2 separate regions of the Homo sapiens genome follow, and region 2 is linked to region 1. The links come from fine-mapping of genetic effects on gene expression. Tissue or cell type: nasal epithelium. Region 1 holds a variant in brackets; the other region holds the start of a gene. All regions are shown on one strand. Distances are from middle to middle.

Region 1 (6,010 bases):
ACAGGGTCTCACAGAGGGGAGTGGGAGCTTCTCCCAGGCCTACAGGACTCAGCATTACTGATAGTGGGTGCGTGCTAATTAACGTTAAAGTTGGGGTGTTATGTAAGTATTCAATTTGTAGAGGAGTTTTGCTCTGTCAAAGTAATTCTTTGCTTTACCAAAAGGACTTAGTGTAAGATTCTATTAAATAGCAAACTCGAGTTTGTTGAGGTTTTCTCTTTGTGAATGTATATAAATGCTGCACTTGTGTGAGGCTTCTCAGGGATTGGGCCCTGTCTCCCAGCCAGAAAAGCTTTCTGTTCTTTACATCCACCTTCCCCTGTCCCCAGGCCTGGGACACCTCGGACAGGTCTTGGAGGGAGCAAACCTTTGTGATTATCTGGATGCTTTCTCAGAAAGAAGAGGGGCAGAGGGGCTGCTTTACTTTTTCTGGCTTTCTCTTTTTAGATTTACAGGCCAAGGAACAGGTGATAGGATGCCTCCTATCCTATCATCTGTTGATAACCTGTGAGATGAGAAGGTTAAAGTGGCGGGCAGGGACCCTGAGTCTGTAGCCCTCCTTGCACTGGCCTGAGCCTTCTCATTCCAGAAATTCTGTTCTCAATACAGCAAACCTTCGGTTTTGCTCATAGAAAAAGCTCTAGCCTTTTCACATGATAGCGTCTTTTGAAGCTGAGAGGTATCCAAATGCATTAGTCTTAGATGAACACACCTGGAATCTCACTTTTATGAGAATTTCATAGACTATACTCTTGAATTCCAGTTGTACATTTTTGCTTGCAAACACAGGCATTTCAGAGTATAATGAGAGGAGGCTGGTGCTCATAAAGAAGACTGACTTTACAGTAAACCACCTCCCAGGAGAACTGAAGATGGGGCTTGAGCTGAGGTGGGGTCTCTTCTCCACTATCCCGAGCAGCACCTGGGCCCCAGGTCTTCACCTAGACAGTCAAGGACCTCAGCCTAAACAGCATCCAGCTCTTAGAAGTCCTGTGAAATTGGGCCAGGCACTGTGGGTCACGCCTGTAATCCCAGCATTTAGAAGGAGGCTGCGGCAGGTGGATCACTTGAGGCCAGGAGTTCGAGACCAGCCTGGCCAACATGGCGAAACCCCGTCTCTACTAAAAATACAAAAATTAGCTGGGTGTGATGGTGCATGCCCGTAATCCCAGCTATTGAGGAGACTGAGGCAGGAGAATTGCTTGAACCCGGGAGGTGGAGGTAGCAGTGAGCCAAGATGGCGCCACTGCACTCCAGCCTGGGCGACAGAGCGAGACCCCATCTCAAAAAAAGAAAAGAAAAAAGAAAAGAAAAAAAAAGATTTCTTGTAAAATTGAAAACAAAATTCAGACTTTGGCTACTTGAATCTTGTTTAATGTAATAGGAAAGCTGATAATTTAAAGGTAACAAGTTGTGGAATGTCTTCTTTAAGATTAGCATGCAGTCTCATTGTACCTGTTACCTGTTCTTTTTTTTTTTATATTGAATGTGTTCAAAGCTCATCCCACCTGTATGCAGAGTGTGTTAGAAACTGTGCTGGATGTGGTTGTTCTCTTTCTAGAAGGTAGGGCTCCCATGACAGCCATATAGGTTCTCTTGGTTGCATAAGTAAACATAAATAAACCAGTAAACAAAATGCCTGCTTTCTGTGTGAATACGTTGTCATTTGATGTCATGGTGTTAAGTATGAAGGTGCTATAAAGAAAAGGGGAGGCCAGGTGCGGTGGCTCACCCCTGTAATCCCAGCACTTTGGGAGGCCAAGGTGGGTGGATCACGAGGTCAGGAGATCGAGACCATCCTGGCTAATACGGTGAAACCCCTTCTCTACTAAAAATAGAAAGAAAAAAAATTTAGCCAGGCGCAGTGGTGGGCGCCTGTAGTCCCAGCTACTCGGGAGGCTGAGGCAGGAGAATGGCGTGAACCCGGGAGGCGGAGCTTGCAGTGAGCCGCGATAGCGCCACTGCAGTCCGGCCTGGGCCAAAGAGTGAGACTCTGTCTCAAAAAAAAAAAAAAAAAAAAGAAAAGGGGAGAGTCCGCCCCTCTTGTAGTTAGGGAGGAAGTTCAATTTTGTTAAAGACTTGAGGGTAAGAGGAAAGTAATTCAATGAGTGAGCTGAGACAGAAGATGAATGAGGCGAGGTGAGCCTCCATCTTGTCACTTGTCCCCTCCCATCTTCAGCCCTCGTGGGGCTGAAGTGATTCAGCCTGAGTGTCCTTGGCCCTGCCCTGGGTCCCCCAGGTGCATACTCTCCTGCATGTGCTTACACCCTCAGGCTTGCCTGCAGTCTCCATGCTGGTGCCCCCAAACAGCCCCTGGAACTACTTCTTTTGGCATTCTGCAGTCTACTCTCCATGTGGCAGCTGTGCATTGACCTTTTAAAACAACCAAATAACATTGTTCCCTGTCCCAACCTTGCAGTGATTTGCAATCACTTTTTAATTAAATTCTGAACTCTGTTTTAAAAAGCCCTATGCTGATCTTGGCTAGTAAGATAGCTTCTCCTCTTTGATGATAACAATATTATTTGTATTAATAATCTACATCAGTAAAAATATTAATGATGGTGACAGTGATGACTGCAGCTAACACTTACTCTGAGTC[G/A]TACACTGTTCTGAGCATTGTATCTATTCACTCATTAACCCCAGGAACATCTTTGAGGAAGGTACTCATGTGCTCCCATTTTGTAAGTTTTATAAATGTGAAAATGGAGATATGAACCCAAGGGCACAGTGAGTTGGAGGCAAAGATGAGCCCTGAGCCAGTGCTGTGGCTGTGGATCAAGGAGTTTGTGTGGGACACTGTCTAGGCTGCTCATCTCTGTGGTCTTCATAGCTGGCCCTGTCTTGCCATTTATCAGAGTTCTGTGTGAATGTCCAGCTCCTCCCAGGGGCCTTCTCTGTTGACCAGAGGCTCTGAGAGCCACTTAATCACTTTTGATTAACTCCAAGTTTGTAAGTCCCACGTTGTTCCCATCTGTGTCCTGGGACCTACAACAGTAAGGTTACCTGGGCCAGTACTCTTTGAGTGGCAGGTGGGGCCGGCTCTGATGTGTGGGCTAGCTATGGAGCCCTGACCTGAAGCCTGGGATCCAAGTGTGGGTAGTCCTAGCTGCGAGGGTGGCACAGAGAGTCCAGAGACTGAACAGAGGCTGGGCAGGGCGGGTAGACATGGCGAGTCTTTGACTGGGCTGTATGTAGGGTTTCTGATGCTTCCATACTCCAGGCAGAATAAATTGGTGCTATTGTTGGCGGGAGCAAAATTGGACAATGTGGAATTCATTTCTCCCTGGAAGACTGGGTGGTTCTTGGTACTGAAAGTCCTCCCAGGATATAATATCTTCAAGAAAACAAAAGATAACCTCACTAGTCATATCAAAGTAGTTTAGTCTAAGAATCCCTAAAAATCCAGTGTTGTCATGCTATGAGTAAAGCTAAGAAACCAACATGACAGTGCCCTCCACATACTGACTGTTGTGAAAACACGTCTTGTTATTTTTGGAAAGTCCTCTTGGTAGACCACTAACATTTTCGCCCCCAAAACAGCAGGAGCAGTAAATAACAACCTTCTAGATAAATCAAATGGGAAAGCATTGCCAGAATTTGCTATATCAAGTGCTGTGAATAGTGGCACCCAGCAGGGAAATTATGGAGAGAAAAGTGCTTTTATTTGCTTTTCAAAGTTGGTGGGACTGTGGGAATATGGGAGATGGGAAGAAAAGGAGGAAAAAGAGAAAAATACTGTCATCTTGAGTTGAAAATGGGTGCTAAACCTTTTTGCTTAGGACTGTGATTCAGTATCAAGGGAAGGAAACTGTTAACTCAGGTATTACTAATAGCCTCATGTTGGTGAGAGAGAGAGCTCACATGCAAGAAGACTAGGTAAGAGCTTATGAGTCTCACAACAGGCTAAGAATTGGGATCATTATTGTTCCCATTTTATAGATGAGGAAATTGAGGCTTTAATGAGATAGAGGAATTTGCTCAGATAACACACCTAGTATGAGCTGAAGCCCAGGATTCAAACTATGGGCTGGCTTCAACCCCATGGTCTGAATTGTCACAGCTGCAGACTTAAACCTCCTCCCCTTTCCCTCTCTTTGAGTGTTAGTTGGCATGATATATTTGTGAAAACTAACTAAAACCAGAAAAATCGAAAAAAAAAAATCCTGTGTCAAGTTAGTAATAATGATCACAGGCTTTTTTTTTTTTTTTTTTTTCAATTTTTCTGGTTTTCTCACTAGTTAGTGTCCCTTTTCTATTCCAGAATTAGGTCCAGGAGTCACCTTGCATTTAGGCATTATGTTCTCGTCACCTTCAGTCTGTGGCAATTTCCATCTTCTTTTGATTTTCATGGACGTTCACACTTTTGAAGAGGCCAGGTATGTTGTAGAATGTTCCCAATTTGGGTCTATGTAGTGTTTTCTTATGATTAGACTCAGGGCTATGGATTTGGAGAGGAATACCACAGAGGTGTCTTGTCTTTCTCATCATGTCACATTGGAGGTACATGATGTTAACATGAATTATTACTGTGACGTTTGCTTGGATCATGTGGCTGAGGCTGGTTGGCCAGGTTCCTCCAATGTCATGTGCCCGTTGTCCCCTCTCTGTACCCTGTTCATGAGAGCCACTAAGTCCAGCCCCACTGAAGGGCGGGGCATTAATCCTGCTTCCTAGGAGGATGGAGGAGTTTCAAATTATTTGTTAAATTCTTAGCATATGTTAAAACCACTACAAGGAATTGATAAATATTTTGGGGGAAGATACTGACTTAGAGATTATGCAAATATCCTGTTTCCTTAAGGTCCTACTGATGTTAGTTAGCATCATCAGTGGCTCTTGGCAATTATGTTTTAATGGCAATTTCCTATTTCCCTCATTCCTTCTACATTTTTAATTGGACTTCCATTAGGAAGATTTGTCCCCTTCCCTCATTTGTTCATTATAATTTATTCAGTTACTTATATCAGTATGGACTCATGGGTGGTTCATTTATTCTTTGCTACTGTATTATTTATTTTGCCCCCCACACTGTTCCAGCTCTGGCCATTGTGGCTTCTGAGTTCTTTGACATCTTTGCATCCCCCTACCCCCTCCCCAACTGTTTTTTTTTTTTTTAAGCACTTCCTTACTTTTTGGCACTACAGGATTCTCTGGGTTTATCTTGTATTTTCTCTGTTCCAGTCCTAGAATCAGCCATTGTCCAAAGGAATTGTCCAGGGAGCCCAATTCCCTTTATTGAATGGTATTTAGAAACCAAGATCTGGGCACTCAGAGGGCACGTGGCTCCTGCTTCTAGGCCCTGTCAGCAGACCAAGCCAGGACATGGATGTGTGTTTACTACCCCACTGTGACACATACCTCTTTTTTACCTCTCTACCTGGATGTATAGGAACTAAACATGAGCTGTCACCTGCATTTAACAACCTCTTTTAATAGGTGAGTTCTTTGTCATGGAGTAGATGTGTCCCTGACAAATTGTTGGCCAACAGAATCCTGTGTCCTCACTTCTGTTGTTGCTGTGGTTATGAGCCCCCAGTTTTTCACCTTCTTCCAATGATGATTGGTATGTCCTTCTTTCCCCCAGGCCACCCGCTCTCACTGCTCAGTGCTCACTCGCTACTCCTCCTCCTGCTGTATGTTTTTGAGTTAGTCATCCTCATGCACTGCTTGTAATTGCTGTTGTGGGCCCCTCTGTTAGTTCATTGCCTCACTGGCCTCCTCTTCACCGAGGTGTAGCAAGAACTTCTGTTCTTACCTCCTTTTCTATGAATGTGATAGGTTTTTATGGCCAGTGGCTTTTAAACTTTGGCTGCAACCTGTAGTTATAGTGAGAAATACATGTTAACAAGGCTTCCAGGTATGCACGTACCTGCATAGTGGCAGTTTCACAAAACAGAGCTTGCTCTTTTTCTGGCAGTGTATCTTGCGTATTTCATTCCATTTTATTCTGTTCTGCTCTGCTAAGGAGATTTTATACCTCCCCTTTGAAAAATACTGTTCTGGGGAC
Region 2 (6,010 bases), 49 kb before region 1:
TTTTTACTTGAATGACAGAATGAAGTGAGCCTGTCTCTTCAAGGAAAATAATTGATTGTATCTACTTCCAATAATAAAGTTCAAGTTTTTAAGCTAAAATTAGAATTCAAAAAACCCATATCCCGCTTCCATGAGCTTGAGTGCTTGTCAATAAAGACAGACTTCTCTGATGAGTTTAGTGGTAATTCTAACAAATGTTATTTTTTGATATTATATAATGAAATGATATTAGAAACCAAGATCTGGGGGCAAGATATGCTCGTTGCATAAAACGAGTGAACATTTGGAAGAGCTGCATAACACAGTGGACCAACATTTTCAAATGACTAATTAATACATGATGGTATAAAATCATGCATTTATTAACGATCCATTCAAAGTGAAAGACCAATCGATATTAATGTAACAGAGTATGAAAAGTCTATAGATACAGTTTTAGATTCCATATGGCAAGTAACCTTTAAGAAACTACCAGTTACAGGGCTGGGTGCAGTGGCTCACACCTATAATTCCAGCACTTTGGGAGGCTGAGAGGGGAGGATCGCTTGAGCCCATGAGTTTCAGACCAGCCTGAACAATGTAGGCCCAACCTCGTCTCTATAAAAATAATTTAAAAATTAGCCAGGCACAGTGGCATGTGCTTGTAGTTCCAGCTACTCAGAAGGCTGAGGCAGGAGGATTGCTTGAGTTCAAGAGTTCAAGGCTACAGTTAGTTATGATCACATCGTTACATTCCAGCCTGGGTGACAGAGGGAGACCCTGCCTCTTAAAAATAAAAAAAATAGAAACTATCGCTTGTAGAAGAATTTTGATGTCATTTTAAAGACAAATAGCCACATTTATTTGAAAAGACAAAATATTCCTCTCATTTGCAACTGTCTGTGTGAGGTTGCATGTTTTCATATACTTCAATGAAAACAACATAATGCAAATTATGTTGCAGTGAATGCAGATGTGAGAATCTTGTGGTCTTCTTTTTTTTTGTGGAGACGGAGTCTAGCTCTGTCGCCCAGGCTGGAATGCAGTGGTGTGATCTCGGCTCACTGCAACCTCTGCCTCCCGGGTTCAAGCGATTCTCCTGCCTCAGCCTCCAGAGGAGCTGGGATTACAGGCACCTGCCATCACGCCTAGCTAATTTTCGTATTTTTAGTAGAGACAGGGTTTCACTGTGTTGGCCAGGCTGGTCTCGAACTCCTGATCCTCCCGCCTCGGCCTCCCAAAGTGCTGGGATTACAAGCATGAGCTACTGTGCCGGCCAAATCTTGCTGTCTTCTAGTAGGCTCATTAAAGAGATTTGCAAAAATGTAAAACTATGTTACTCCTCTCACTGAACTTTTATTGCTTTGAAGAACATTATTTTTTGCATAAAAGTATGTTAACATGTAATGTGTTTTATGGTCATTTAAAAATGATTAAATAAATATTTAAACATTTTATGTTTTAATTTCTAATGTGGTAAATATTGATAAGCATAACCCATATCAACAAATGTTCTTTGGAATGTTCAACAAATTTTAAGAGGATTAATGGTCCCTAAATCAAGAGTTTCAGAACCACTGTTCTAGGGCAATTTACCTGAGTTGGATTTTATTTACAATTCATTAAAGCTTATACACTATGAAGACATGTTAACTTGCATGTTTTAATCTAGAAGAGGTGCAAATCATTTCTATACACTAGAAATGATAATCTATGGTTTTATCATCTTGTAGAACACCAGCCAGCTTTGTATCCAACCTAATCTTACTCTAATGCTTTGTCAAAATGTTTAATCTCCACTTCCTCAAAATGCTTTTGAACCAGCTTTACCATATCATTGTTAATTTGCTGAAGAAATCTTGGATATGTGTTCATGATATATTTGTATGAGTGTCATGCTTTTTACTTTTTTAAGATTATACTTTGACAGACACTAACAACATATGTATATATGACGTATATATGTATATACATACTATACACACACATACACGTACATATTTCACAACGATGGCATACGGATTCTCTATTCTGAATCTAGCTCTTTCCACTTAATATACGTTGAATGCACTCTTTATTTTCTTCGTCATCTTGACTTTCTTCTGATGCAACGCCCTGAGTTTAACTCACAGATCTGTTAATAAGAAACCCATACATCCCACATATACGCATTTTCCCGTCTCTGGCTCACTAACAAAAAGCTTACCCTAGCCCCATCTTTAACCATAGGTTCCAAATACCCAGGCTGGAATTCAACACAGAAATAAGAAAGGATCCACAGACAACGTGACAAAAATCCGAGCAGTCACGTGACACTGCACGCCCCATAATTTTTTTCCGCCCGCTTCAAACATGGCGGTCAAGCCCTCGCAGCGCAGCAGAAGCCACGGGCTTCCTTCCGCGTAGGAACCTCCTTGCTGCCCTTGTCGGGCTCTTTTGTCTAAGACCACCTCAAGGCAAAGCCCGTGGGGCAGCTGGGTCTGGGGAAAACAGCCCGGGGCCGCGGGGGCCGAACGAGCACGGACCGGAAGTTCCGCAGCCGCGCCGTCCGGCGGAGCCGTTGGCTGCGGACGCCGGAAGTGGCCAGTCGGCAGGTCTGAGGCGGCGCTGTGTGTGTGAAGCGTACCTAGGGCGGGAGGCGACATGGAGACAGGGGCGGCCGAGCTGTATGACCAGGCCCTTTTGGGCATCCTGCAGCACGTGGGCAACGTCCAGGATTTCCTGCGCGTTCTCTTTGGCTTCCTCTACCGCAAGACAGACTTCTATCGCTTGCTGCGCCACCCATCGGACCGCATGGGCTTCCCGCCCGGGGCCGCGCAGGCCTTGGTGCTGCAGGTGAGGCGGGCGGGCCTGCGGTCTGGGGAGCCGCCGCCCCCGGCCTGCCCTGACTCCTGGCGCCCGCTCCTCCAAGCTCTCCCAGCCTGTTTCCTCCTTTTCCTGGTGTCCTGGGGTTGAGCTTGTGAGAATGGCTTCAGTAATTTGAAGCGCGGATTGGATGTCAGCTTATTCCGCTGAGGTGTTCGCTCCGGACGTCCTGAGGTTTCAGAAGTAGTAAGCCGACTGTTAAGAGCCCTACTCAGCACCCGCCAGCGCGTACCCCTCACGGTGCTGGGGGCCGCTAGTCAGGGAGCGAAATCCATGCAGGCCAGACAGAAGGAAGGACATTTACAGCAACAGAAACGTGCATGCCCCAGAACTACCAAAGACTTGAGCTGGCGGGGATGACGGAGGCATTGTGTTGATCAATGGGTGTGGTCGCTTGTTTGAAATGTGACTTCCCAGGTCAAAGACTGTCAATGTAGTGCTTATTAAAATTTCTATTTGAGCTTAATTCCGTACCCTCCAGGTTAAGTTTATTGTATGTTGGAAACGCTGTCAATACTCATTCAGTGAAGTTGACTGGGCACTTTTGAATGTAGTGGTAAGCAACCTTTTGCTGAATGTAGTTTACACTCTTAGTTGCCGCAGGTGAGGGTGATACGGGTGTTTAAGTAATGGTTTCTCTCTCCTTGTGACACAGTTAAAGAGAGAAAACCCAGAAAGTAATAGAAAACTTTTTAAGGGCAATTATTTGATGGAGCCCATTGTAAAGAAAGGAAATAGAAATGATGGTTGAGAAGTGAAGTTTTTATAAGAGAGGTGGGACTTCTGATGAGATTAAAAGAAACTATTCAGCCAAGTATTAAGCCTATTTGTAGAAACCCAAGAAGATAGAAATGCTGATGATACCTCCCTCAGTTCTCTAGATGTTACAGTTTATAAAATGCTTCAGATGTTTCCTCCTGAAGTCTTAATGCATGCTGCAGGTTGGTAAGATGTTACTTTCCTCAGCAGAAGCCAAAGCTTTGAATGTCTTGGTAGCTACCAGGGTAATAGGGCCAAACGAGGAATGGGGTTCCATTAGGATTCAATTTCAGAACTTAAGGCTATTCCTCGTCCTTGTCAGTGGCATAAGTGCCATCTTAGTGATGAGAGAGCTGTTGGAGGTGGCCTTTAGCAGGATCTTATGGCAGGTTAATGAAGTCTTGCCATTTGATCTTCAGTGTCTCTGTGAAACAGATAAGTTTCAAGTTTACGTACCAATTCAGCAAGGTTAAGTGATTTGACCAAGAACACACAGCCAGTTCACCGTAGAGCTGAAACTAAAAATTTCATTTTGTGGATTCCAAATCTTCCTGTTCTGTTGTTTAACCATTCCATAGTAGGATGAGAACACTTTTGTCTAGATTGATTGTAGTTTGCAGAAAGATGTGGAGGAGAAAGGAGTATATACTGAGTAATATGTATAGTATCAGATGTTTTATATTCTGGGGTCGTTATCTTATTTAACCCTTAATATAACCTGAGAGGTTGGTCTTTGTTTCACAGATGAACTGACAGAGCACTCATTAACCTGGTAACTCATTTACCTGGTAACACCTCTTACAAGACACTTCCATAGGTTAGGATTTGGTGACCAGTCTAATGAAGTAGTGGAGATGGGGAGCAGGGATGGAGGAAGGGGAGGGATGGGTCAAAGATGATCCAAGGTTTCAACTTGGGTGACTGGAATAGTGATAATGCGTTAACTGAACTGTCACCTGGGTTTAGGGGAAAAAGTTCAGTTTTAGACAGGTTGAACTTGAAGTTGCAGGTAGGAGTCCCTGCCCATAGGCTATTGGAATTACTGGACTAGATCTTTTGGGAGCTAGAGCAACTGGAGTGGTCCGAGGGAGAGAGAAGAGCCAAAGGTGAAGAACAGGCCTTGGGGAATAATCTTGGTGGAGAGCAATAAGTTTCACAGAAACCAAGGGGACAACAGTCTCCAGCAGATGCTTAAGAGAGGTGTCATGTTTTCTGGAAGTGGTTCTCAACCATCAGCATCGCTTAAGGAACTTTTTTCTTTCTTTTTTTTTTTTTTTTTTTCCTGGAGATGGAGTCTCACTCTGTCGCCCAGGCTGGAGTGCAGTGGCATGATCTCAGCTCACTGCAACCTCCGCCTCCTGGGTTCAAGCAATTCTCCTGCCTCAGCCTCTCGAGTAGCTGGGACTGCAGGTGTGCGCCACCACGCCCGGCTGATTTTTGTATTTTTAGTAGAGATGGGGTTTCATCATGTTGGCGAGACTGGTCTCAAACTCCTGACCTTGTGTTCTGCCTGCCTCGGCCTCCTAAAGTGCTAGGATTACAGGTGTGAGCCACTGCGCCTGGCCAAGGAACTTTTAAAAGCACATATTCCTGGATATTTTGGTTGGGTAGATCAGGGTGAATCCTGGGAACCTGTTCTTTTTTTTATTTTTTTATTTTTTATTTTTGAGATGGAGTCTCATTCTGTTGTCCAGGCTGGAGTGCAGTGGCGCAATCTTGGCTCACTGCACCTCCTCCTCCCAGGTTCAAGTGATTCTCCTGCCTCAGCCTCCCGAGTAGCTGGGTTTACAGGCATGTACCACCATGCCTAGAGAATTTTTGTATTTTTAGTAGTAGAAATGGGGTTTCACCGTGTTGGCCAGGCTGGTCTTGAACTCCTGACCTCAGGTGATCACCCGCCTCAGCCTCCCAAAGTGCTGGGATTACAGACATGAGCTACTGCACCTGGCTGGAACCTGTTCTTTTATCCACAAAAGCTCATTTGACAGGAGGTTTGTAAAGGTGATTTCAGTATTGACAAGGGTTTTATTGTGGGGTGGGACAACACTGAATGAGACTGAGTGACTTGGTACCAGCATAACATTATTTCTTCGTGGTAGTAGGTGATCTCCTGACCTCCCCACTCCTACTCATCTGCCTCTTAGGGTTTTTTTTTTTTTCTGTCCCTAACTTGATGGCATAAGACTCCTTCCTGGGGTCTGCCTCTCCACCCCCACCAGATGTGGGATGCTTGGTGTCTCTGCTGAATATAGGCAGAGAAGAATTTGGATGGGAGTGCTGGGCTGCATCATTGTGGAACTTCAAAGCGTTCCCTTAATATTTTGGGGAGTACAGTGTTGGTGTAGAGTTAGGCAGCTCATACGTTTCCTTTTAAAAGTTTGCATAGCCTGGATACACAGCTTGAAGA

The links. PIP is the estimated chance that this variant, and not a neighbour inherited with it, causes the effect.
Region 2: it holds the start of NUDCD3, and the variant in region 1 is fine-mapped to the expression of NUDCD3 in nasal epithelium (TOPMed, PIP 0.98).

What each region holds. Positions count from the first base shown.
Region 1 is chr7:44,438,704-44,444,713 of GRCh38, reverse strand. All of the region lies in intron 2 of NUDCD3 (NudC domain containing 3), which reads left to right. Among named protein-coding and RNA genes, the nearest start is that of NUDCD3, 49 kb to the left of the region's middle. The variant G/A (reference allele first, on the strand shown) is at 2,603.
Region 2 is chr7:44,487,213-44,493,222 of GRCh38, reverse strand. NUDCD3 (NudC domain containing 3) reads left to right here and starts at 2,565. Exons shown (of 6, transcript NM_015332.4): 1 at 2,565-2,814. The coding sequence starts at 2,623. RefSeq lists silencers at 622-748, 2,814-2,983.